Linked DNA regions of Homo sapiens. The protein of the gene in region 4 purifies or fractionates together with the protein of the main gene of each other region. This does not show direct contact. Each region holds a gene or a part of one and is shown on either strand. Other genes may lie near its edges.

Region 1 (3,500 bases), on a different chromosome or scaffold from region 4:
GGGCAACAGAGCAAGACTCGGTCTCAAAACAAAAAAAAAAGCCGGGTGCGATGGCTCACGCCTGTAATTCCAGCACTTTGGGAGGCCAAGGCGGGGGGATCACCTGAGGTCTGGAGCTCGAGACCAGCCTGACCAACACGAAGAAACCCTATCTCTACTAAAATTACAAAATTAGCAGTGTGTGGTGGTGCATGCCTGTAATCCCAGCTACTCAGGAGGCTGAGGCAGGAGAATCGCTTGAACCCGGGAGGCAGAGGTTGCGGTGAGCCAAGATCGCACCATTGCACTCCAGCCTGGGCAACAAAAGCAAAACTCAAAAAACAAACAAAAAACTATACTTCATGGCTGGGTGTGGTGGTTCAAGTCTGTAATCCCAGCACTTTGGGAGGCCGAGACAGGTAGATCGCCTGAGGTCAGGAATTCGAGACCACCCTGGCCAACAAGGTGAAACCACCTCTACTAGAAACACAAAAAATTAGCCAGGTGTGGTGGCGCACACCTGCAGTCCTAGCTAGTTGGGAAGCTGAGGCAGGAGAATCGCTTGAACCTGGGAGGCAAAGGTTGCAGTGAGCTGAGATCGCACCACTGCACACCAGCCTGGGCGTTAGAGCAAGACTCAGTCTCAAAAAAACAACTATACTTCTTAAAAATACCTTATCTTTTGATGTAATAATTCCATTTTAGAATCCAAATAAAATCTGGGGAGAGGGAATAAATTCCATTCATTTTATATGTATCTATTTAGAAAAAATAAAACTTCAATTCTTGATTAAAGTAAAAGGTGATCATCTAACAGTCATGTTCATTTAGTTATTATTCATATCAAGTAATATCCATGTGACATAAATCCACAGTATAAACAACTTGATCACTGACTTAAATTTTAGAGCATATATAAACTGTTTAATTCTAGGCCGGGAACAGTGGCTCATGCCTATAATCCCGGCACTTTGGGAGGCCAAGGCAGGAGGATCATTTCATGCCAGGAGCTTGAGACCAGCCTGGGCAACATAGCGAGACCCTCATCTCTATAAAAGAAACAAAAAACCAGTTAATTCCCCGTTTCTTTTCAGTGGTACTACTGAAGGCTGTTTCAGAACCGCAAAGCTGTTGGGAGATCCGAAGTGTATTTTGTAGGTTATCCTCCATATGACATTTATACAGCAACACAGCACTTCAGAGATAACCTAAGTCCAAAAATGTAACTGGTCACAGAACACTGCCCCAAGAAAATGGGGCAGAGGTTTAAACTTTTAGCTCATACAACTATAAACTTGTTAAGATTTAAAAACTACAAAGTAAGAGTCACACTGCACTTCCCAATCCAACAACTATAAACGTGGTAAAAAGAGAGAACTCACCACAATGAATACTAAGAATAATGAATATGGTAAAGAGTGGTCTATGTGGTTAAAAATTTAAAAACCTCTTTTTGTGGAAACTTACCAATCCAGAAACAGTGTTAACCACATCTAATGATTTAATCTTGGAGGTCGAATTTTTTTTAATTAAAAAATTGCTTAAAATGTTTGCATATTTCATAATAAAATCTTCTTTAAAAGATCTACTTAGTAAATCATGAAAACACTCCTCCAAATGATTTATGGCAATAATGAATCCAAATGACTCATTAGAAGACGGCATGAATAAGAAATATCTGTTTGAGCAGGACAAAAAGAAAAATAAAAACAGGAGGCACCAGGACCACCAAGTCCTGACAGATGCCAATCACCACCAACGTCCAGTGAGCTAGGGCAAACAGACAACCAGAATGAGTATAATAAATGTTACTGTATGCTTTCAACAGGGCATTCTAGTGTTAAGGCCAGGAATAATGCCAGAATGAAAACTTCTCTAGGAAGTTATAAATTTTGATAGATGCAGGATCACAGCTGCTCTGATACTAGACTTTCAAACATTTGCCAAGGAGAGCATATCAGAAACAAGAAACTTTAATTAGCTCTTGGGGGAGAAAAATCGCTCAACTTGAAGAGTAACTATGACCTTTCCAAAAGGTCAGTGAGGCATTAGCAACTGTAAGATAAGCTTCACACCTTGTTAAAGTGGGTATGAATTTCCCTCTTGGCAGTAAAGCCTGGGGAACAAACTTAAAGCAACATCCCCTGATAGCTAGAGCAAAGGGAAAGACAATGGCAAGCAGTGATGGGACCATCAGAGCAAACCTCTACTTTAAAATACTACAGCCCAAAATGAAGAACAACCATATCAGATCATGTCGGGCAGTCCTTCACAGTTCTGATCTATTGGTAAGAAAACCTCTTGCCTTGTGTAAGGAGAAAGAGGATTGACAACAGAAACCATGAGACTGGGAGGGAGATGGGGTAAGAGAAAGGGGAGGAAAACTGGATGAGTGACATTACTGAAACGCAAGATCCCTTACTGCAGTATTATAGTACTATAGTAATGTGAGTTCATAATTATGGTTTGCCAGAAGTTATACAAAGTATACTTATACAAGGAACTGGGAAAATGTTTCTAAAAATTTTGACAACAGGTTGAATATAAAGAATTATCTGTTTCAAGCCAGGAGCAGTGGCTCACACCTGTAATCACAGCACTTTGGGAGGCTGAGGTGGGCAGATCACCTGAGGTCAGGAGTTCAAGACCAGCCTGACCAACATGGCGAAAACCCATCTCTACTAAAATACAAAAAATTAGCCGAGTGTGGTGGTGGACGCCTGTAATCCCAGCTACTGGGGAAGCTGAGACAGGAGAATCGCTTGACCCCGGGAGGCAGAGGTTACAGCGAGCCGAGATCGCGCCATTGCACTCCAGCCTGGCTGACAAGAGCAAAACTCCATCTCAAGGAAAAAAAAAAAAAGAATTATCTGTTTCAGCTGGGTGAGGTGGCTCATGCCTATAATCCTAATGCTTTGGGAAAATCTCTTAAGGCCAGGAATTGGAGACTAGCTTGAGTAACATAGTGAGACCCTATGTGTATAAAAAAAAATTTTTTTTTAATTAGTTGGGCATGGCAGGGCATGCCTGTAGTCCTGACTACTCGGGAAGATTGCTTGAAACCAGGAGTTTGAGGTTATAATGAGCTATGATCGTGCCACTACTACATTCCAGCCTAGGTGACAGAGTGAGACTCTGCCTCAAAAAAAAAAAAAAAAAAAAAAAAGGGCAAAGCATGATGGCTCACACCTATAGTCCCAGCTACTTGGGAGGCTCAAGAATCAGGCTTCAGCCCAGGTGTCTGAGGCTGCAGTGAGCTATAATCGCACCACTGCATTTACCCGCTGGGCGACAGGAGACCCTATCTCCAGGAAAATTGAAAATTTTAAACAGTGTGTAAAAGGATTATCTGGGCTGGGTGAGGTGGCTCATGTCTGTAATCCCAGCACTTTGGGAAGCTGAGGCAGGCGGATCACCTAAGGCCAGGAGCTGGAGACCAGCCTGGTCAACATGGAGAAACCCCGTCTCTACTAAAAATACAAAAAATTACCCGGGCGTGGTGGTGCATGCCTGTAATCCCA
Region 2 (3,500 bases), on a different chromosome or scaffold from region 4:
TTACCCCATGACCCAGCAATACTACTCTTCTAACCAAAATAAAGGAGAAACTACGTCTACAGGAAACCTGTATGTGAATATGCCCAGTAGCATCATTCACAATAGACAAAAAGTAGAAACAACCCAAATGCCAATCAACTGATGAATGGATACACAAAATGTGATACATCCATACGATGGAATATGATTTGGCAATAAAAAGAATAAAGTACTGATGCATGCTATGACATGAACCTTGCTGTGTATTTGTTAGTATACCAAATATACTAAGGGGAAGAGGCCAGTAACAAAGGACCACATACAGTATAATTTATGTGAAATGTCCAGAATAGGCAAAATCCTTAGAGGCAGAAAGTAGGTTAGTAGTTTCATAGGGCTGGGAGGATTCTGGGGGTGGGGAGTAGTTTGCATGTATAATGAGTATGACTGGTAAGGGGCATAGCATTTTGGGGGTAATGAAAATGTTCTAAAATTGATTCTGGTGATGGGCACACAACTATATGAGTACACTTAGAGCTATTACATTGTATTCTTTAGGTATGTTCCATCATATGTAGATTATATCCCAATAAAGCTGTTATTACACATAGAGTAAGAAAGAGAGAAGTGAAGTGGATGAATCAAGAATTTAGCAACCACGTTTTGTTGAATGAAAGAGGATGAATGAGTTAATAACTACAGGTGACTAGATTGGTTTTGCGCGTCTTTACAGCCAACCTATCAGAATACTAAAAGAGCAGGGACAGACAAGAGCATCTAGACAGGCTCGTTCCTTACACTATCATCTAGAGAGGGGATCAGCAAACTACTTTTGTAAAGGGACAGAGAACAAATATTTCAGGCTTTACAGAAGACATATAGTCTCTGTCACAAATCTTTTTTTCTTACAACCCCTTAAAAATGTAAAAACTGTCCTTAGCTCCAAAGCCATACGAAAACAGAATACTGGCTGGATTTGACTCACAGGCCAGTTTGGCAACCTTTGTTCTAGAGAGCATATGTCACCTCTTACATACCCTTTTGTGATGGACAGTGGACTAGACCTGACAATGGCTGAGTCAGTAATCTTGCCAGAGATATGGAAATACTTAATTGACAGCTTTAATAATCAATAGAGGAAGATCAAAGAACACGAACGTTGTGAGTGCCATATCCCCCTAGCTTCCTACAGTTTAAAACTACCTGGCCCGAGTCTAACTTCAGTCTTTCTTGCTATAATGTCATGTCTTTTTTTTGCTCTGAAGTCAGAGAAAAGAGTCACCTATCCCCGTATCCCCCAACTCTTATACTCTGGGTCTAAATAACGGGCCCAGAGGCTCATCTCCTGCCCCCCACACTTCTTACCATTAAGGCAGCGCCTACGATACTTATGGTAGACGTGTTGTGTGAAGCCATTTTCCTTGAGCAGTTCATGGGAAGGATGCTGGAACTTGGGCAATGACTGAGGGGTACAGCCATAGCTGCCAACTGTAGGCGTCCCTTCTGAGGGGCTGGAGCTACAGAAACCACAAAAAATACTGTCACCAGGTTCCCCACAGCAGCCCCACCATGTCAGGAGGGGTCCCTCTGATCCGTTCTGTCAGCCAAGATCCATCCTCTCACAGGGTATCAAACAAGGAGGCCCAGTTACGGACCTTTAACTTATATCCATGGGTCTGATTAACTCTGCATCAACTCTCAGAGAGTTTTACAGAGGATACTGAGGCTTACAGAGATTAGGAGACTCATCCAGGGTCATAAGACTATTTAATGGCAGAAACGTGTCCAATGATAAAACTTGAGCTTTTAACCATTTATTAACTTTAAGCATTTAACCTTTTAATGAGCCATCATGGGTCAATCCATCTACAGTGAACCCTTGAACAACATGGGTTTGAAATGCATGGATCCACGCGTGGGTCCACTTATACGCAGATTTCTTCCACCTTTGCCACTCTTGAGACAGCAAGACCAACCCCTCCTTCTCAGCCTGCTCAATGTGAAGACCATGAGGATGAGGACCTTTATGATGATTCCCCTTTGCCACTCGAGAGAGCAAGACCAACCCCTCCTTCTCAGCCTGCTAAACATGAAGACCACGACGATGAAGACCTTTATGATGATTCTACTTCCACTTACTGAACAGTAAATATTTTCTCTTATGATTTTAACTTTTATTTTAGGTTCAGAGGTATGTGTACAGGTTTGTTAAGTAGGTAAACTGTACCTCACTCTCCTCCCTCTCCCCACCAAGTAGGCCCCAGTGTTTGTTGTTCCCTTCTTTGTGATTTTCTTAGTAATATTTTTTATTTAGCTTATTGTAAGAATACAGTATGTAATACATATAATATGCAAAACATGTGCTAATTGACTATATGTTATTGGTAAGGCTTCTGGTTAACAGTAGGCTTTTGGAGAGTCAAAAGTTATACACGGATTTTCAACTGTGTGCAGCTGGGCACCCCACGCCCTTCGTTGTTCAAAGATCAATTGTATATTTTCTTCAAAAGCATGCCTATTTGCAGTCTGTGCCATCTCTGCAGGGAGTAGAGAGCATTGGTCATAGGTAGGTGGCTCTCAAAGCTTGCTTTGGGAAACAGGAAACACACACTGGGGCCATCTTACTGAAATAAATAAAAAAGAGTGTGGGCCCTACCCCAAGAAGCAGGGTCAGCAGATACAGGTTGGGGCCAATAAATATGTATTTTTTTAATTTTTAAAACTTTTCAAGTAGCCTCCCAAGACATAGTAGGCTCAGAGAGACTGCCAGAAATCTGTTTATTCAACTACCTGGCTATTCTTCCTCAGACAGAAAGTAGATAGCCAGGCTTGGAAACCAATTCAGAGATTTTCTCTCTGCATGTATGAAAATCTGGTCTCACGTGACTGCCACACCACTTCTTTAGGAAAAAAGCCTACCCGTCATTCCCAGGTCCTGGGCTGAGCTTTCCACACCACTGGTTTTTTGAAAACCTCTTAGATGAGGGTCCCTTTAATTTTCAGACCAATCTTCTTGGTCCAGTCAATTTCATGGCTCGCCCACCCATCCCATAGGCAGCCTGATCACTCTTCCCCCACTGCCCCAGGTACCTGATGGAAGCAGTACGGGGCCTGTGCTCACGGGAATCCATCACCCAGCCCACATGGCTCTCCAAGGGTGGGTTTGAACTGTGTCTTGTCTTTCTTTTTCGAGGCATCTGCAAAGGTTAGCCCAGGGTTTGTTACTGTTTGTACTCCTACAACTCTGAGGAGCATCAAGCACTTGTAGGACTAAGATGGGCATGATCTCTCACATTTTACAACAGCATTTTCATATTCATTCTCGTATAAAGTTCACAGTGGTGAGCTAGGAACTGGTATGCCTATTTCAAACAGGTGAAGAAATCAAGGTTTGGGAATGCAGTGATTTGCCCAAGGACTCATACCTGGTCAATCCTCCTTAGGCCTTTCAACATGGGGTTACCACTCCCACACCCAGTATATTTTGCAGATGTGGCTACCTAATCCTAGGTAAGCCCACC
Region 3 (3,500 bases), on a different chromosome or scaffold from region 4:
ATTATTTAGATCCATAACAAGACTCAAATCTCAAGAGGTTCTGGGGGTTGACACAAAATGTGACATGTGATGATATGCAATACATACCAAAAAACTGCAGGATTTGGCCAATTTATGTTAATGGAAAGCTGGAAAATACATATCCCAGAATTACCTTCCCTGTATGGTTCTGCCTTAGAGCTAGGCAAAAGAAAAATGTACACAACACTTAGAAGACAGACAAAAAGCAGCAGCTGTATGTTCTGAAGGTCAGGGTGGCCTAAGGTAATGAGAGGCAGGTTTAGTTTGTACTCATTTTTCTTTTTCCTTATTCTATTCCTTATTCCCCTTCCCCACTCCACATCCAGCTCTTCTTCTCAACTGCCAGCACTGCTGACTAACAGCAATCCCAGGCCCACCAGAAACTTGACTAAGAACTGACAAATGTGGTAGCTATGTGCACTGACTTCTTTATCAGTCCACCTTCACAGTGTCATGCCAGAAGCTAGGTATTAACAGTCTTTATGACTTCACGGTAGATCTGCAGGGAAAAGTTTTACACTGCATACTTTAATTCTTCCATTTTCACGTCTTATAATGAATATTTATAAGTTTTATAAGCAGTTAAATAATTTAAAACATTTCAAGCAATGCTCCCTAATTTAGAACACTCTTAGTTCCCTGGGGAAAATAAATAAAAGGAGGTTTTTCATCGTAAAAAAAATTTAAAAAGACTTACATCATTAGATTGAAACAATCGCGTCATTGCAAAGAAGGCTTCTGTAGCTTCCGTTGTTCCAAAGTGTTCACCCTAAGTAAAATTTAAAACAATTTTTAAATTTTAAAAAGTGTATATTCATATATATGTACATATACACACACAGGATTTTCTATTTCTGCAAAAATCCTTTAGAACTCAAGAAAAAAGAATCTCTTTGTAAACATTCTGCCTCTGCAATTTTTCTGGCTTTCAATGCATAAACCCACATAGCCATTTATCCCCCCTTATTTAAAATAATTCAGTATCGCATACCATGCTTAAAAGTTCTGGCATAGTGATCTCTAAACTTTTAGTAGAAAGTATCTGAAATTTTCCTGAAGTATTGTAGTTTACAAGGAGGGAGAAAATTACAGCACTCACAATAGGACATTATTATTACACTGCCTAAGAGCAGAGATCATATCTATAATGCCCAGCACAATGCCTAACATGTCATGGGAGCATAATAAATATTAAAATATAAGGAACTATCTATTCAGAATCTCAGCAAAATGGCAAGAAGGGGACCAACCAAAAGGGCAGGAACCAGATTCATCATATTAAAAAACTAGGCTTAAGGGGCTGCTATGTAGCTCAATATTGGTTCAAGCCCCTAAAAACATGCTTTGGATCAGAGCTTCAAACAGTTTAATGAGCATGACAATTCATCCTGGGATCTTGCCAAAATGCAGATTCTGATTCAGTGGCTCTGGGGTAAAGCCTGAGATTTTGCATTTCTTTTCTTTTTTTTTTTTTTTTTTTTTTTTTTGAGACGGAGTCTCACCCTGTTGCTCAGGTTGGAGTGCAATGGCGCAATCTTGGCTCACTGCAACCTCCACCTCCTGGGTTCAAGTGATTCTCCTGCCTCAGCCTCCCAAGTAGCTGTGATTACAGGTGTGCACCACCACGCCCAACTAATTTTTTGTTATCTTTAGTAGAGACGGGGTTTCACCATGTTGGCCAGGCTGGTCTTGAACTCCTGACCTCGTGATCCACCTGCCTCGGCCTCCCAAAGTGCTGGGATTACAGGCTTGAGCCACTGCGCCTGGCCTGAGATTTGGCATTTCTAACAAGTGATGCAAATGCTGATCTGGGAACTACATTTTCTGAGCAGTGAAAAAGTGTTAGATAACGTATTTCAAAACATCTCAAATCATAGATTACCTCAAATATTACCATTTCAATATTTAATGTCTTCACTAAAAGCAATCTTATATAATACGTTACACTCAATCACTTTTCAGAGCTTCAGATTCCACATAAAATATAACTAGTCTTCAATCTATTTGCCATAGGTATAAGAATAAATTTTGGTGAAAAATACTGACAGTTTAGGATAAAAGACAAAGTACAATAAGTTTATACTTACTTAAATCAGTGTATCCAGCCTGCTCATCAGCATGAGATTTATCTTTCTTTCACAACTATTTACTGAATACCCAGAAGTCTGTGTGCTTTTTAGTTATACAGGAAAACCTTACATCCTACTTTTTTACTTGAAACTCAGAAAACACATGGATATGTCAACTCTCATAGAAATTCAAAAGTATCTTTCTATAAAGCTCTACCAAGTTCTAGGCAAAGAGATAAAATTTATGTTCCCAAACCTGTTTATATAGTTAATTGTGTTTATGCTGTGCTTGGTAATTTCCTTATCAAGATAATTAAATGTTTCAACATGAGTTGCCTCATTGAAGAGGTAATGACCAACATAAAAATACATGTTACTCTCAATCAACTTTGACTATTCAAAACTTTTGTTTATACAATGGATTTGGCCAACTTAGACACAATGTGTGCTATGAAAAGTTAAACCCAATTGACTATGCTTTAAATGTTTCTCATATGCTGACACAGAGGGATTATGTTGTTTGTGAACAGATATATTTTATTTAAAACTATGTGTTTGATGATCAGGCACAGTAGCTCACACCTGTAATCCCAGGACTTTGGGAAGCTGAGGTGGGCGGATCACCTAAGGTCAGGAGTTTGAGACCCACCTGGCCAATATGGTGAAACCCCGTCTCTACTAAAAATATAAAAATTAGCCAGGCGTGGTGGTGCATGCCTGTAATCCCAGCTACTCAGGAGGCTAAAGTAGGAGAATTGCTTGAACCAGGGAGGTGGAGGTTGTAGTGAGCCGAGATTGCGCCACTGCACTCCAGCCTGGTAACAGAGCGAGACTCCATCTCAAAAAATAAAAAAAATCTATGTGCTTGTTGCTTAGTCTTCATTTGTAAACAAGAAAACTTTATTAAATCTCTGAGTGAGGTCTTCAGTCACAAAACAAAGTAAAGATAATATATTCTCTTAGAATTCAAATTGGAAACCATGGTTATCTTAGCACCATATGTAAACCACCTGAGGTATATGGTATATATGTATGTTTTATGTGTCCGTCTGTATGTGTATAGACATATATAGTCAGCCCTCCATAACCATGAGTTCTGAATCTGTGGATTCAACCAGGCTCAGATTGAAAATATTCAAGGAAAAAAAAAACTATGTTTGTACTGAACACGTACAGATGGTTTTTTGTCATTATTCCCTAAACAATACAGCACAACAACTATTTACACAGCACTAACATTGCACCAGGTATTGTAATCTAGAGATTATAGTCTAAGTATTATAATCACAGAGACAACTTATATATGGGAGGATATGTGTAGGTTATATGCAAATACTACACCATTTGTATGAGGGACTTGAGCATCTATGGACTTTAGTATCCAATGGAGGTCCTGGAACCAATTCCCCA
Region 4 (3,500 bases):
TTTTTTTTTTTTTGAGACTGAGTCTCTCTCTGTCACCCAGGCTGGAGTGCAGTGGTGCCATCTCGGCTCACTGCAAGCTCCGCCTCCTGGGTTCACGCCATTCTCCTGCCTCAGCCTCCCGAGTAGCTGGGACTACAGGTGCGCACCACCATGCCCGGCTAATTTTTGTAGTTTTCATAGAGACAGGGTTTCACCATATTGGCCAGGGTGGTCTCAAACTCCCGACCTCAGGTGATCTGCCTGCCTCGGACTCCCAAAGTGGTGGGATTACAGGCATGAGCCACTGTGCCTGGCTGTCTAAGTGCCCTTCATAAGAACAGAGCTCTGCTCTTATAAAGTGGTTCTAAGATTTAACTTGTGAATATTATAATAGGAGAAAATACTCTCACTAGGATTGAATCTTAGTTTAAGATTATAGTTGAATGTCTTAGCAAGAGTTTATCATTTTTTCTTAGTCTCCCTTAGTGTATTTGTGTAGCAAATGGTAATTTTAGTGTACTCTTCAATTTACCCTAAATATTTCAACTCATATCTAAGGTTTTAGTGACTTAGTCGGATGTCTTCTTCTGTAGTGCCATCTTGAGGGTCATACTTTCAAGGAAGTAAACGTGAAGAAAGGAGAAATAGAAATTTAATAAAGATGAACTTCAGAGATATATTTATTTAAAATAAGGAAACAGTTCGGACACCATGGAACTTGTTTTGAAGTTATTTTACCCTAACTTGTATGATTGGAAGATAGTTTGTCTGTTAATTTTTAAATTATTTTGTTACAAAGCAGATAGTGATCTAAAACTGCAAAAAATTAAGTATGTTAACTGTTTAGAACTTCCTTGAATGCAGTTATTTAAGGAGAAAATTCACTGTAATGTTTATATTTTTAGGTTGCTGTGAGTCTAGGTACTCCAATTATGAAGCCAGAATGGATTTATAAAGCTTGGGAAAGGCGGAATGAACAGTAAGTGTTTAGAAACTCAGTAGTTCATTATGTAAATTAAACATTCTGGTTTAAAGATAAATCCATGTGCTGAAAAAAGTAATTTCATAGATATAAAAACTGAATTCAGTCTGAGTAGCTTGAGGAATAAAATCTAGGGAGAACAAGTTATAAAAAATTATAAAAAATTAAAAATTGAAAGATATCTTTGATATCTTTGGATTTTACCTTGTGAAGTAATTTTGGCTATTATAAACATTCTGAAATTATTAGATAATAGCTAAATAATTCTGTGTATTTGGATTTTGTTACATATTTTTAAAATTTTGTGTTATCTGGTTACATTTTAATTGGTGCTTGAAATTTATTGCCTTGTTTTGCTTAGTTTTCCAAGCGCATGATTTCTTGCTGTGGCACTTCATGAATTAAGATTTCATGAAAGTTATCATTATTTTAGATTTCATGAAAGCCTTGGAACACAGTACATATAAATCTTCAAATAATAGAGAAAAAATTTGAATCTCTTGTAAAGCTTATCTGTGATCACATTTTGTCAGAAGTTACTTTTGGGATGACAGGACACATCATTTTTTTAAACTGAAGTTTTTGTGAGCATTTCAGGACCAAATATTAAATAGTTTCAATAGATAGATTATGCCAAGACCTTGAAAATTACTGTAGGTTTGTAAATTGATATACCTAACACTTGAATTTAAGTTAAACTGGTTTTGGAAGAGTGTATTTTGTTTTTAGGGATTTCTATGCAGCAGTTGATGACTTTAGAAATGAATTTAAAGTTCCTCCATTTCAAGATTGTATTTTAAGTTTCCTGGGATTTTCAGATGAAGAGAAAACCAATATGGAAGAAATGACTGAAATGCAAGGTAAAATTTAGCATAATGTAAAAGTTATATCTATTTTAGTCCCTAGGCCTGCTTAATCACTTCCTGGTCAATATACCTCTTAAAAAATTTGAGTTTGGAAATAAGTAGCTTGGCTTATTTATGCTTATGTGCATTCCTTTTTAGGAGGTAAATATTTACCGCTTGGAGATGAAAGATGCACTCACCTTGTAGTTGAAGAGAATATAGTAAAAGATCTTCCCTTTGAACCTTCAAAGAAACTTTATGTTGTCAAGCAAGAGGCAAGTAATTCTAGAATGAGGTTGGTTTTTAAAAACACTATTAATAGCTTCTCTGATAAAATAAATGTAAACTGTTTATTAAAATGTTTTTTCTCTCACCTAGTGGTTCTGGGGAAGCATTCAAATGGATGCCCGAGCTGGAGAAACTATGTATTTATATGAAAAGGTATGCTTTTAACCCCTTACTTATTTGTTCTGTGAGCTTGATTGTTTGAAAATAACACTTTTCTGTCCAGAAGGTTTAGAAGCATGTTTAGGAATTTCAGAATGATTAAAACAATTGGGATATCAAGTTATCTTAGTCTATGTAGATTTAAGTGGAACTATTCAATGTAATGTGTATTATTTTAACCTAATATATGTTGTTCTGTGCGAATTCTTGGTGATAACATTACGAACAAGAACATCTCTATCTTCAGAAACTTAGACTTTTAATGGAAAGATAGATTTGTACGTAGTTAACGATGGGGAATGATGTGTGCCACAACTGAGTAATGTATTTTAGGTAGCCTCGCTCTGAGAGACTCAGGAGGGAATAAAAAGGTGAAATAAATGTTGACCCAACTTACTAGGCCAACTAGGTAAGGACATTCGTTAGAACCCCAATTGGGAGAGGGTATGAAAGCTTTGAGAGTACATTAAAATAACAAGTAGTTTAGTATGGCTTTACAGTGTGGGAAGGAAGGCCAACAGATAAAACTTAATGGATAGATAGAATCAAGAAGTTTTTAATACATTAATGAGCTTGGATATTATCCTATAACTATTGGGAGCCATTGAAGAAGAGTAAGGGGAGAGACGTCATTAAAAAGATGAGTTTGATAGTAGAATATCGTTAAGGAAAATCTAGTGTTTATGGTGAATCTTGGTGAAGAGTAGTATCACTCACCAAAATGACAAAGTTATGGAAGTAGTCTTTAAGGGAAGATTTACTTCAGTTTAGGATTTAATAACTTTGTGTGGAATATTGAAGATGAGTTGTTTCTGTAAAATCTATATAGTACCATATTGTGTTCTCTTCAGAGTCTTTGAAATGTGAAGTTCTTAAAGTTTAAAAAGTGTGCTTTAGATTTAGGGAGAGAACTCTTAAAAATCAAGTGTTACTCAGCACATATTGGAAAGCATTGTGTCCAGGCACTGTGCTAGGGATACAGCGAACAGACTGTGAATGGCCCCTGCCTTCTTGGAGTTGATGAGCTAATGAAGGAGCAGGTAGTAAACAAGTTTACAGATGAAAATATAATAGTGATAGTGGCTATGAAGAAAAATGAGGTGCTTGAGGTTAGACAATTACAGTCGTCTCTTGACTATTATGTTTTATGAAACTTTTGAATTGCCTGGTAGAGTGTAGGGTTATAAAATTATTGTGCAAAATCCAGATTCTGTCAGACTTGTAAATATATTTTTCTCTTGTTCCTG
Region 5 (3,500 bases), on a different chromosome or scaffold from region 4:
ATCCCTGAGTGAGGCAGGGGCCTTGAGATGCTGCCAGAGTCCTCATTCTGTTTCACATTAGGCTTGCTGTCACTCCTGTTAAGGATCTCACTCTGGGAATTTCCCTTTTTTTTTGTTCTCCTTCTATTTGTTGGAATCCCTGACAGGCCTTTTGGGGGTTCTCTGGATATCGGTTAAGGCTAGATTAAGCTGAAGAAAACCTTAAACAACAAGTATCTTGTTCTGCCGTGGCTGCTTGAGCTCCAGCTCTGACCTCAGCATTCCATCTAGCCTGGAGGAGGAAGAGACATGTTTCTGACCTTTTATGGCACTCAACTTACATCCTATGAGCCAGAATTTAATGACATTGCCACCTAGCTGAAAGGGAGCCTGGAAAACATCTGTTTTAGGTAGTCTTGTGCTTAGCTAATGCTAAGGAAGGCACGCACAATGAGTTTGAGTGTTTATTATGTTCCAGACATCATGTTAAACTCTGAATCTCCTATTTAGTCTTCATCATAACCCGTAGGTGGGCCTTATTATTATCTCCATTTGATAGAGGACTGAACTGAGGCCCAGTGAGATCAAGTGATGAGCTCAGGTTCACACGCCTATTGCATGGAGGAGCCAGAATCCAGACTCGGGCTCCAGCTCCAGAGTCTGTATTCTTGGCTAGCTGCTTTACTCAATCTCACCTTCTCCCTCCTTAATTCCCTTTTCTCCACTCAGGTGAAAACCTCAGTAAAGAAAACCCAGGCCAAAGCCAACCCAGCTGCCGCCAGAGCACCTTCAGCAAAAGGGACAATTTCAGCCCCTGGAAAAGTTGTCACTGCAGCTGCTCAAGCCAAGCAGAGGTCTCCATCCAAGGCAAGTGGGGCCAGAAGCCACAGGAGGTGTGGAGGGTTGGGGTAGAGAGGAGGACCAGTCACTGAGCCCAGCCAGGAGAAGGTGCGTGCATGGGCAGGCCACCCACCCAGAGTTGTGCCATAGTGGGGAGTGGGACCTGAAAGGAATCACTTTTGCCTCCAATACTATTATCCCCCTGCAATTCAGGTGAAGCCACCAGTGAGAAACCCCCAGAACAGTACCGTCTTGGCGAGGGGCCCAGCATCTGTGCCATCTGTGGGGAAGGCCGTGGCTACAGCAGCTCAGGCCCAGACAGGGCCAGAGGAGGACTCAGGGAGCAGTGAGGAGGAGTCAGACAGTGAGGAGGAGGCGGAGACGCTGGCTCAGGTGAGGGGGAGGGAATGGAGATCATCCCCTACATGGGATGTAACACCTTTGCCACATCCAGCTCCTGTCTTCTCACACGTCCACCCTCCAGGCTCTCTCCTCTCATCCTGTTTCTCCCTCCAGGTGAAGCCTTCAGGGAAGACCCACCAGATCAGAGCTGCCTTGGCTCCTGCCAAGGAGTCCCCCAGGAAAGGGGCTGCCCCAACACCTCCTGGGAAGACAGGGCCTTCGGCTGCCCAGGCAGGGAAGCAGGATGACTCAGGGAGCAGCAGCGAGGAATCAGACAGTGATGGGGAGGCACCGGCAGCTGTGACCTCTGCCCAGGTAAGACTTGCCAGGCCTCTGAGCCACCAACACTCACTCCTCAGAACGGGGGTATAGGGCTGGGCGTGGTGGCTCACACCTGTAATCCTAGCACTTTGGGAGGCCGAGGCAGATGTATCACTTGAGGTCAGGGGTTCAAGACCAGCCTGGCCAACATGGTGAAACCCCGTCTCTACTAAAAATATAAAAATTAGCTGGGCATGGTGGCGGGTGCCTGTAATCCCAGCTACTCGGGAGGCTGAGGCAGGAGAATCCCTAGAACCTGGGAGGCGGAGGCTGCAGCAAGCCAAGATCATGCCACTGCACTCCAGCCTGGGTGATGAGAGTGAGACTGTCTCAAAAAAAAAAAAAAAGAAAAAAAAGAAAAGTGAAAAACCAGGGTTTAGGGCCAGGTAAGGAAAAGAAAGGAAGGCCAGGTTAAGGCTTAAGGCTCCAGTTCCACCATGCCCTCCTCCGTCTGCTGTCATCCACATCTCCTTAGGTAAAACCTGCTACTAAAACCCCCCAAACGAAGACTTCCGTAGCTAAAAGTGTCCTGGGTCTATATCTAGGTCGAGGTCTCCACCAGCTCTATAAGCTAGGCCAGTATTTCCCACCAAGGCATATGAGACCAAGAATCTACATGTTAGTTATTGTGCATACGTTAACGTTATACAAAATGACTCTCCCTGTCAGAGTCCCAGGGAAGCTTGGAGTGTGGCACAGGTCCCCCTGAGGTCCTGGAGAGATGGAGGAAGTCTCATCCTGCACCTTGGCCCGGAGCCTCACATAGGCAGGCGCATCTTCTCAGGCAGGGCTTGTCTAGCTTAGTGCAAAGCCTGGACCCTGGAGAGTGGGGAGAAAGAAAATCTGAACAATTCCCTCTGTCTGCTTGCAGAAGATAGCAGGGCTTGCTACATCCTACAGAAGTGTAGGATGACAAACTCCAGCACTGCCAAGGCACAGGTGTGTGATGGAAATGACTGATGCAGGCCTGGCAGGAATGATAGATGTCGGCCGGGTGCGGTGGCTCAAGCCTGTAATCCCAGCACTTTGGGAGGCCAAGGCGGGCGGATCATGAGGTCAGGAGTTCGAGACCAGCCTGGCCAACATGGTGAAACCCTGTCTCTACTAAAAAAATACAAAAATTAGCCAGGCGTGATGGCAGGCGTCTGTAGTCCCAGCTACTCGGGAGGCTGAGGCAGGAGAATCGCTTGAACCCGGGAAGCAGAGGTTGCAGTGAGCCAAGATCATGCCATTGCTTTGCACTCCAGTCTGGGCAACAGAGTGAGACTCTGTCACAAAAATAAAAAAAAGAGATGATAAATGTCAGGAGAGATGGTAGATAGTGGTAGCAAGTAGGGCAGACCGGAGAGCCCTTGCCCCATCCAGAGGGGCAGTTCTTATCAGCTTCAGCCAGTCATGACTGTGGAGATGGACCTTCTGTGTGGCCAGGTCTTCCATTTCTTAAGGGAAGCTGGAAGTCCCTGTGCCAGGCCAAGCTCCATAACCTCTTAGATTTGTTTTCTTCATGAGTAAAACAAGCACTGAGATGAATGCTCCCTAGCCCTAACCTCTGCCTTTGATACACCAAACCAACAATTACTGGGGGTGAAAGACATTGGCCCCACCCTCAAGGAGCTCACAGTCTGTGGGGCAAGACAGGTGACCGGATTATCGCAGACTATGCTAGTGGTGCTGACAGCTGAAAGAGCAGGTCTCTGAGAGGCCAGAAAAGGAGGAGATGATTGAGCTGAACCTGAAGGATGACCAGGCACAAAAGTGGAGAAGGCCCCTCAGTGTGTGCAGAGGGGCTGGGCATGAAGGCACATGGTCACTGAAGGCAGCTGTCCTGCAGGCCGTAGGCCCTCCCAGGTGCTTGTTACTGGTAGATTTATGGAGGACCTAAATGCCAGACTAAGACATAGGCCCCGGCCATATTTTGGGCTGTGTAGTTTTTTTGTTTTTAAGTTTTCAATGAGTTC
Region 6 (3,500 bases), on a different chromosome or scaffold from region 4:
GCCCTGTGCCTGGACATTACTGCCAGGGACGTGCAGGATGAGTGCAAGAAGAAGGGGCTGCCTTGGACTCTGGCCAAGAGCTTTATGGCCTCCTGCCCAGTCAGCGCGTTCGTGCCCAAGGAGAAGATCCCTGATCCTCCCAATCTGAGGCTCTGGCTCAAGGTCAACGGCGAACTCAAGACAGGAGGGTGAGACATCCTCCATGACTTTTTCCATCCCCTACATCATCAACTATGTTTCTAAGATCATGACCTTGGAAGAAGGAGATGTTATCTTGACCAGGACAACAAAGGGAGTTGAACCAGTTAAAGAAAACTATGAGATCCAGGCTGGCATACACGGCGTGGTCAGTATGAGATTGAAGGTGGAAAGGCCAGAATATTGAGGCATCTCTTAACAAGTTTCAGGGAGAAGGGAGAAAGACAAAAGCAAGCAACGGCTATTAAATGTCGCAATCCTTTAATAAGAAACCAATTATTTAAAAAAAAGATTAGATTGCTGTGGCTCAACTCAAAGAAGATGGATTCTTCAAGAAAACATGAACTAGAAGGGATGGACCAGAAATTTAAAAAGCCAAAGTAAAGTACTTCTGGTGCTTCGGAAAAATTTTATCAAACCAAATGTTCTAGAGTTTTCTTTCATAAAACTGGATTGGAGAAGACTTTTCAGTGGGTTATCTCTAGGATGATCAGTCGTTCAAGACTTAAAAACTGCAGGGAAAACTGAAAGTTATGTTCCAGATCAGTGTTTCCCAAATTTCCTTGGATTTGGTCATCATCAGGAAGCATTTGTAAAAATAAAAATTTCCAAACTACTGTGGCCCATCCCAGAGCCACTAAATCAATTTGATGGGATTAATCTCCAGTGAAGCTGTGTTTACAGAGTACTCCAAATGATTCTTATCAGGGAAATGTGGAAAAACACTGCTGTACATAATCAATTAATTTAAATTTTTACTTAATAAGTGAACAATTAATGAAGATTTCACCTGTTTACTTAGGGTGTCTACCCTGACCCATCGATTCTGAGTTCAGGAGATGATTTTGAAATTATTGTTTTCCAAATAAGTGTGCTGCTACCTTTTATGTGGCTAAAAAATAAAAATAATAAAATAAAATAAAAAATAAATAAATAAAATATATTCTCTAAGGCAGCAGATCCCCAAACTTTCTGGCATCAGGGACCAGTTTCATGGAAGACAATTTTTACACAGATGGGTTGAGGCTTGAGGGGTGTGGTTTGGGATGAAATCATTCCAGCTCAGATAATCAGGCATTAGATTCTCATAAGAAGCATGCAAGAGTCTGAAGCTCTTGCTGCATCTAGAGGGGCTCTCCTGTTGTTTCTAACAGTCAAGTGTCTTCAGAATCAGCTAACTCTGTCCCCTCTACATCTCAGCAAGGATTTCTTAGGTGGCATACTTGTTACTTCTGACCACTCTTATTTGGATTTCTGAGCCAAGGCAAGTCTAACAGTCTAATCAAGCTTTCAAGAATGCAGCTCTCATCTGATTAGACCCCATAAGAATGAGTTCATTTTGAAACCTTGATTGAGGTCAGCTAACTCGATTATGCTTTCACCCTTGGCCTCCTTGGAGGATCTTGGATACACCTCCCAAAATACAGAACTCATCTGTACCTCTGTAATATTCCATGATTCATGATTTACGTTCCTTGACCCAAACTCCTAATGTTCTTTCTTCTTCCACTGTGCTCTCAGGAACTCATGTTATTAACAGATTTCCCTGCATCTTCAAATCTCTCACAAAATAATCCATTGATAGCTTTCCCTAGTGGTCAGGGGTTCTTAACCTGAGGTCTATATTGTCCGGGGGAACATGATGGGGTGTCTGCATACTTAGATGGAAAATAAATTACATTATTTACTTTTTACCAAACCAACTGGAATTCACTAGTTCCTTCAATTATGAATGCAGGCCAAAAACCACAGCATTAGTAGTACCTGTAATTGGTATCAATACAAATCACAGATATTTTTATAGCATGTTACAGTTTGTTGCTCATCAAGATATTTATGTTCATCATTACACTGCATTTATTTAATCAGACCTGCTGCTGTGTCTTTAAGGTATTAATAAAGAAGCACATAATTACTGTATGACAAACTTAAGAATACTTTTAAAACACATTTCAATGCAATTGGTTTCCTCTGTAATCCTCTCTGTGTTATACCTTCAGAAATACTATACCAGGAAGGGTCCATAGGCTTCACCCTACATCCATGGCACACAGCCCTGCAACCTAACCATTTATCTCTTGCTGCAGCCCTGTAGCCTTTTGGAGTAAAAAAAAAAAAGCTACTTGTTTTCTAAAGGCTGACATTCTACAAGTATGGTAAACAGAGGGAGAGGCTAGCAACATTTTCCTAGTTCCTCCTTATTGCCTTGAAATATTCCTCCTACATGCCAGTCCCTGGTTTATTTCGGTGTCCATGAGAACAACAATCATTCTCATATGCTGTAGTCACAGGGTCCCAATGTCCCAGCTCCAGTAAATCTTTATCTCTATTCCATTACAGCTGACAGCCCAAACCCTATCCCTCAGAAGTGTACCACTTCTAAAAACCTGGAGCCTCTGCCATATGCCCCAACTACAATCTCCTTTTCTCTCTCACTCCCTAACTCTATATTAACACTAACAGTCCTTTCTAGCTTTTCCCCAAAGCATCCAAAACTTCAAGTTTTTACTTTCTTCCCAAACCAGCTCTTGTCCCATCAAAGTTAATCCTTCCTCTTGGATCTAGATTCAGATTTTCCTGCCTCTTCCAGGATCTTGCTCCGCCAATAATCACCACTTTATTATGAACACCTAGTAGGTAAGCTGCACTGGGTAGACATTGACAGACAGCACACACACAGTCCACTCTCATGAAATTCAAATGATTCAGACAAATTGCAAGAGTCCTTTGGGCCAGGGTAGAGGCAGCTCTAAAGGCCCCATTTCTCACCACTGGACTTAAACATCATCTCTTCAGCATATGAATAAACTCAAGTCTTTACTATCTTCTAATGTACATATATAATGTGTGTGTGTATTTTTTCATCATTTCATAATCCCTCAAATCCCTTTTAGCTATCACCCTTCTCTGTCCATCCCAAGCTAATAATCAAGGGCTTGCTGTTCCTCAAGCTTCTGCTCTCAGCTTGTTCCTCTCCATTCGCTATGAATTATCTTATCTCACCCAATTGCTTCAATCATTTCTTTTTTTTTTTTTTGAGACGGAGTCTCGCTCTGTCGCCCAGGCTGGAGTGCAATGGCGCGATCTCGGCTCACTGCAAGCTCTGCTTCACGGGTTCACGCCATTCTCCTGCCTCAGGCTCCCGAGTAGCTGGGACTACAGGCGCCCACCACCACGCCCAGCTAATTTTTTTGTATTTTTAGTAGAGATGGGGTTTCACCCTGTTAGCCAGGATGGTCTCGATCCCCTGACCTCGTGATCCGCCTGCCTTGGCCTCCCAAAGTGCTGGGATTACAGGCGTG
Region 7 (3,500 bases), on a different chromosome or scaffold from region 4:
AACCAAGTCCCGTATTATTAAGAATATTGTATTTATGAATAAGTCAACTTTAAACTACAAAATATCCCCCATACTAATAATATTCATTTCTTGGTTTCTAATATATACTTATACATAACTATATATGTACTTTATACATAGCTGTAATAACTTTTATGTACACTTTTGTATTTTTTTCACATATTTTTCCAGAGTCATTATGAAACTTTAGGGCCATTACACTTAGCATTTAAAATAGGTAATACATTCACATGGTTCAAAAATGAAAAAATACACAAAGTGAACTGTTTTCTCATCCCATTTCCCAACCACCAAAATCCTAAAGTAATAAATAAGTAGTCTAAATTTCAGGAGGAACGCCTCTGTTTTTCCATTAAATATAATGTCTGTTGTTACTCTTATCAAGGAGAATTAAAGACAGCTGGAAAACCTGTAAAACTTAAATACTTCCATTTTCACTGTTCTTGTTAAGAGGCTGCTCTCCTTTCTTGTCAAAGAAACTGCTAGTGTTATGAGAAAGAGAAGAATATCCTAACACGTACAGTACACACAAAAACTATAAAAACTAAGACAAATTTATTCAGCACCTGGTTCAGACATCTGCTTTGGTTTCCATTAATAGGATCTCTACTATCTGCCAGGCATAGCCTGTCTAAAAGGCAATTATTACCTGATCTTCATATCCTTCTATCTTCACAGGCGTGAACTGATCCATGTTATACTGGGCAAATGCACTGTTTTTTTTTAAAAGTTTTTTAAAAAAAAAAAAAAAAAGAGGGAGAGAGAAAAGAATTATGTGTAAATAAACACAAAAGGTGGTTCACAGAATAGTGAAAGGAAATGTGAAAATAGTACCCTGTACTTTTCCCTTCTCCCCAGACATCCAGTGTTAACATAATGCCTTCCAGCTTTCTGAAGGGACTCCTCTCTACGGAGATCTTGGAAGCTCCTTAAACTCTGAAATTACCTTTTCCTCTCTGCTCCTGAGCTCCAAAAGACCTTCTGCTTAGACAATTCCAAAGTTGGTTTGTTTTGAGATAGAGTCTCACTACGTTGCCAGGCTGGCCTCAAACTCCTGGGCTCAAGAGATCTTCCCATCTGTTTCCTGAGTAGCTGGGACTACAGGTGCACACCACCACACTCGGCTAATTCCAAAGTTTGAAGCAATCTAATTATTGTGAACTGCCAACAATTTTAATCATTTGGGCAGAAGCTTTCAGTAATTCAAAAGAATCCTCCATTGATACACTATTTTGGAAATGATCTTTTTTCTTGGCTCTCAAAGTCACGAGAAACTATAATTAAATGTCAGAAGGCATCTGACATGCGAAGAAGGTGAAGTGAGAGTTGAGCATGAGTCAAGTATAAAAGTAGAGCCTCAGGCACAAAGTAGTTATTTTTAAAAGAGGAATGCATAAATAATCAAAGTACATGCCTAATATTACTATTTGTCCAAAGCTTGATTTTTGAAATTCTGCATTTTTAATGGCTCTCTAATACATTTTACAAAGCTAAAGCAAAAGACAAGATAAAAGAAAGATGGAAATAAGAGCTACACTTATATTCTTAAAAAGTATCAGTCTTCTCACAGAATTCCCAATTTTAACCTATTAAAATAGACTGCTAGTTTTTTTTTTTCCCCATGTCAGACAGGTAATGTGCCAACATAACAAGGTTTGAGGGAGGCACATCTCACACATGCATGTGAAAACTCAACCATCACACTTATGAACTACAAAAGGATGGAGACCACTAGTTTTAAGCAGTGGTTAAAACTAGGCTTCTCAAGATAAAGCAAAGTAACAAACATTTAAACTTCTTCAAATATTTAAAGCTTTTTTTTTTTTTTTTTGAGATGGAGTTTAGCTCTTGTTGCCCAGGCTGGAGTGCAATGGTGTGATCTTGGCTCACCACAACCTCCACTTCCCGGGTTCAAGCGATTCTCCTGCCTCAGCCTCCAGAGTAGCTGGGATTACCATGTGCCACCATGCCCAGCTAATTTCTGTATATTTAGTAGAGACTGGGTTTCTCTATGTTGGTCAGGCTAGTCTCGAACTTCCAACCTCAGGTGATCCGCCCACCTCAGCCTCCCAAAGTGCTGGGATTACAGGCATGAACCACCGTGCCCAGCCTCTAAAGCTAATTTTCAATCTTATTTTGTTAAAAGTTGTTACTGTATACTTTGTGTATTTATTTTTTTGGGGGGTGGGGGTGATGCAGTCTCACTCTGTTGCCCAGGCTAGAGTGCTGTGGTACGATCTTGGCTTACCGCAACCTCTGCCTTCCGGATTCAAGTGATTCTCCTGCCTCAGCCTCCCAAGTAACTGGGATTACAGATGCGCACCACCACACCCAGCTAATTTCTGTATTTTCTTTAGAGATCGGGGGGAGTCTCACCATGTTGGCCAGGCTGGTCTCGAACTCCTGACCTCAGGTGATCCACCCACTTTGGCCTCCCAAAGTGCTGGGATTACAGGTGTGAGCCACCACACCCAGCCAAAAGTTATTACTGTGTTTTACTCCTTAAAACACCACATCCCCATGTAGCAAAATTAATCCCAAACACATTAGCTCTTCAGAAAGGATACAATTTATTCATAAAAAGTAGAATAAATGTTAGTTTAAAAAAAAACGAGTAGGAAGTAAATATTTTATTCTAGTATATGTCCTAAGACTATAGATTACCAACACCAACACCAAAATGTCCTTACCTTTAATTCCATCTCAAGTAAACAGCATCTCCATTTTACCAGCTGCCTAAGCCAAAAACTTGGGGTGATCTTTGATTCTTCTCTTTTTCTCACACTTCACATCCAGTCCATCAGTAAATCTTGTAGGCTCTACTTAAGTACATATTCAGAATCTGACTTCTTCCCACCACCCCCACTGCTACCACTCTAGTCCAACCAGTAGCATCTATCCCTGAACTATTCTCATTGTCTTGGAATTACTCATCTTACCTCAGCTTTTGCCCCTCTACACAGGAGCTAGTGATTATTCTAAAATATAAGTCTCATTATGTTATTCTCTACTCAAAACAATCTTACTTCCTATCTCTGTCAGAATGAAATTCACTCTTTAACATAACTTACAACACCCTATTTATTCCAGAAGCGCTGGAATTATCTGGGGATGGTTCTGGTGGCCAGAAACTGGTGGAAATCCAGGAAAGATGGTAAATCTTAGCTACTTCAAGCCCTTCATTTTATACAGACTGAAGGCAATAATTATGACAATGATTATGAAAACATTAATTGAGCAGTTACTATGAGGACTATGGCCAAGGGACTGAAATGCTTTAATACAGAAATAAAACTGAATTTTTCTTCTCTATGGAAAATCAAATATTTGGGTCCAGGAAAATTCTCTTAACAAGAGGGTTCCCCAAGAACCTATAGTCTATAAGAACCAGAATAGTTATAAATACAAAGCTTTAGTGTCAGTGCAATTAAAGAAAATGAAGTATCTGAACTACATACCAACTTCTCTTAATCTTAGCC

Evidence for each region.
Region 1: the proteins of ECT2 (region 4) and ATP2A2 purify together in Homo sapiens (affinity purification with mass spectrometry, with the first as the bait; 2 studies listed by BioGRID). This does not show direct contact.
Region 2: the proteins of ECT2 (region 4) and LARP1 purify together in Homo sapiens (affinity purification with mass spectrometry, with the first as the bait; 2 studies listed by BioGRID). This does not show direct contact.
Region 3: the proteins of ECT2 (region 4) and COPG2 purify together in Homo sapiens (affinity purification with mass spectrometry, with the first as the bait; 2 studies listed by BioGRID). This does not show direct contact.
Region 5: the proteins of ECT2 (region 4) and TCOF1 purify together in Homo sapiens (affinity purification with mass spectrometry, with the first as the bait; 2 studies listed by BioGRID). This does not show direct contact.
Region 6: the proteins of ECT2 (region 4) and KIF23 purify together in Homo sapiens (co-immunoprecipitation; 3 studies listed by BioGRID and IntAct, with this or other methods). This does not show direct contact.
Region 7: the proteins of ECT2 (region 4) and CAPZA1 purify together in Homo sapiens (affinity purification with mass spectrometry, with the first as the bait; 2 studies listed by BioGRID). This does not show direct contact.

The regions. Positions count from the first base shown.
Region 1 is NC_000012.12:110,287,747-110,291,246, reverse strand, and holds part of ATP2A2 (sarcoplasmic/endoplasmic reticulum calcium ATPase 2), read right to left. Parts: intron 1-3,500.
Region 2 is NC_000005.10:154,803,877-154,807,376, reverse strand, and holds part of LARP1 (la-related protein 1), read right to left. Parts: intron 3,177-3,500; coding exon 3,070-3,176; intron 1,497-3,069; coding exon 1,345-1,496; intron 1-1,344. UniProt on the Homo sapiens protein: RNA-binding protein that regulates the translation of specific target mRNA species downstream of the mTORC1 complex, in function of growth signals and nutrient availability.
Region 3 is NC_000007.14:130,662,249-130,665,748, forward strand, and holds part of COPG2 (coatomer subunit gamma-2), read right to left. Parts: intron 791-3,500; coding exon 719-790; intron 1-718. UniProt on the Homo sapiens protein: The coatomer is a cytosolic protein complex that binds to dilysine motifs and reversibly associates with Golgi non-clathrin-coated vesicles, which further mediate biosynthetic protein transport from the ER, via the Golgi up to the trans Golgi network.
Region 4 is NC_000003.12:172,760,726-172,764,225, forward strand, and holds part of ECT2 (protein ECT2), read left to right. Parts: intron 1-884; coding exon 885-958; intron 959-1,690; coding exon 1,691-1,821; intron 1,822-1,965; coding exon 1,966-2,081; intron 2,082-2,184; coding exon 2,185-2,247; intron 2,248-3,500. UniProt on the Homo sapiens protein: Guanine nucleotide exchange factor (GEF) that catalyzes the exchange of GDP for GTP. Promotes guanine nucleotide exchange on the Rho family members of small GTPases, like RHOA, RHOC, RAC1 and CDC42.
Region 5 is NC_000005.10:150,378,197-150,381,696, forward strand, and holds part of TCOF1 (treacle protein), read left to right. Parts: intron 1-708; coding exon 709-846; intron 847-1,032; coding exon 1,033-1,212; intron 1,213-1,335; coding exon 1,336-1,536; intron 1,537-3,500.
Region 6 is NC_000015.10:69,431,349-69,434,848, reverse strand, and holds part of KIF23 (kinesin-like protein KIF23), read right to left. Parts: intron 1-3,500.
Region 7 is NC_000001.11:112,650,832-112,654,331, reverse strand, and holds part of CAPZA1 (F-actin-capping protein subunit alpha-1), read right to left. Parts: intron 1,745-3,500; exon of another isoform or gene 1,644-1,744; intron 735-1,643; coding exon 671-734; intron 1-670. UniProt on the Homo sapiens protein: F-actin-capping proteins bind in a Ca(2+)-independent manner to the fast growing ends of actin filaments (barbed end) thereby blocking the exchange of subunits at these ends.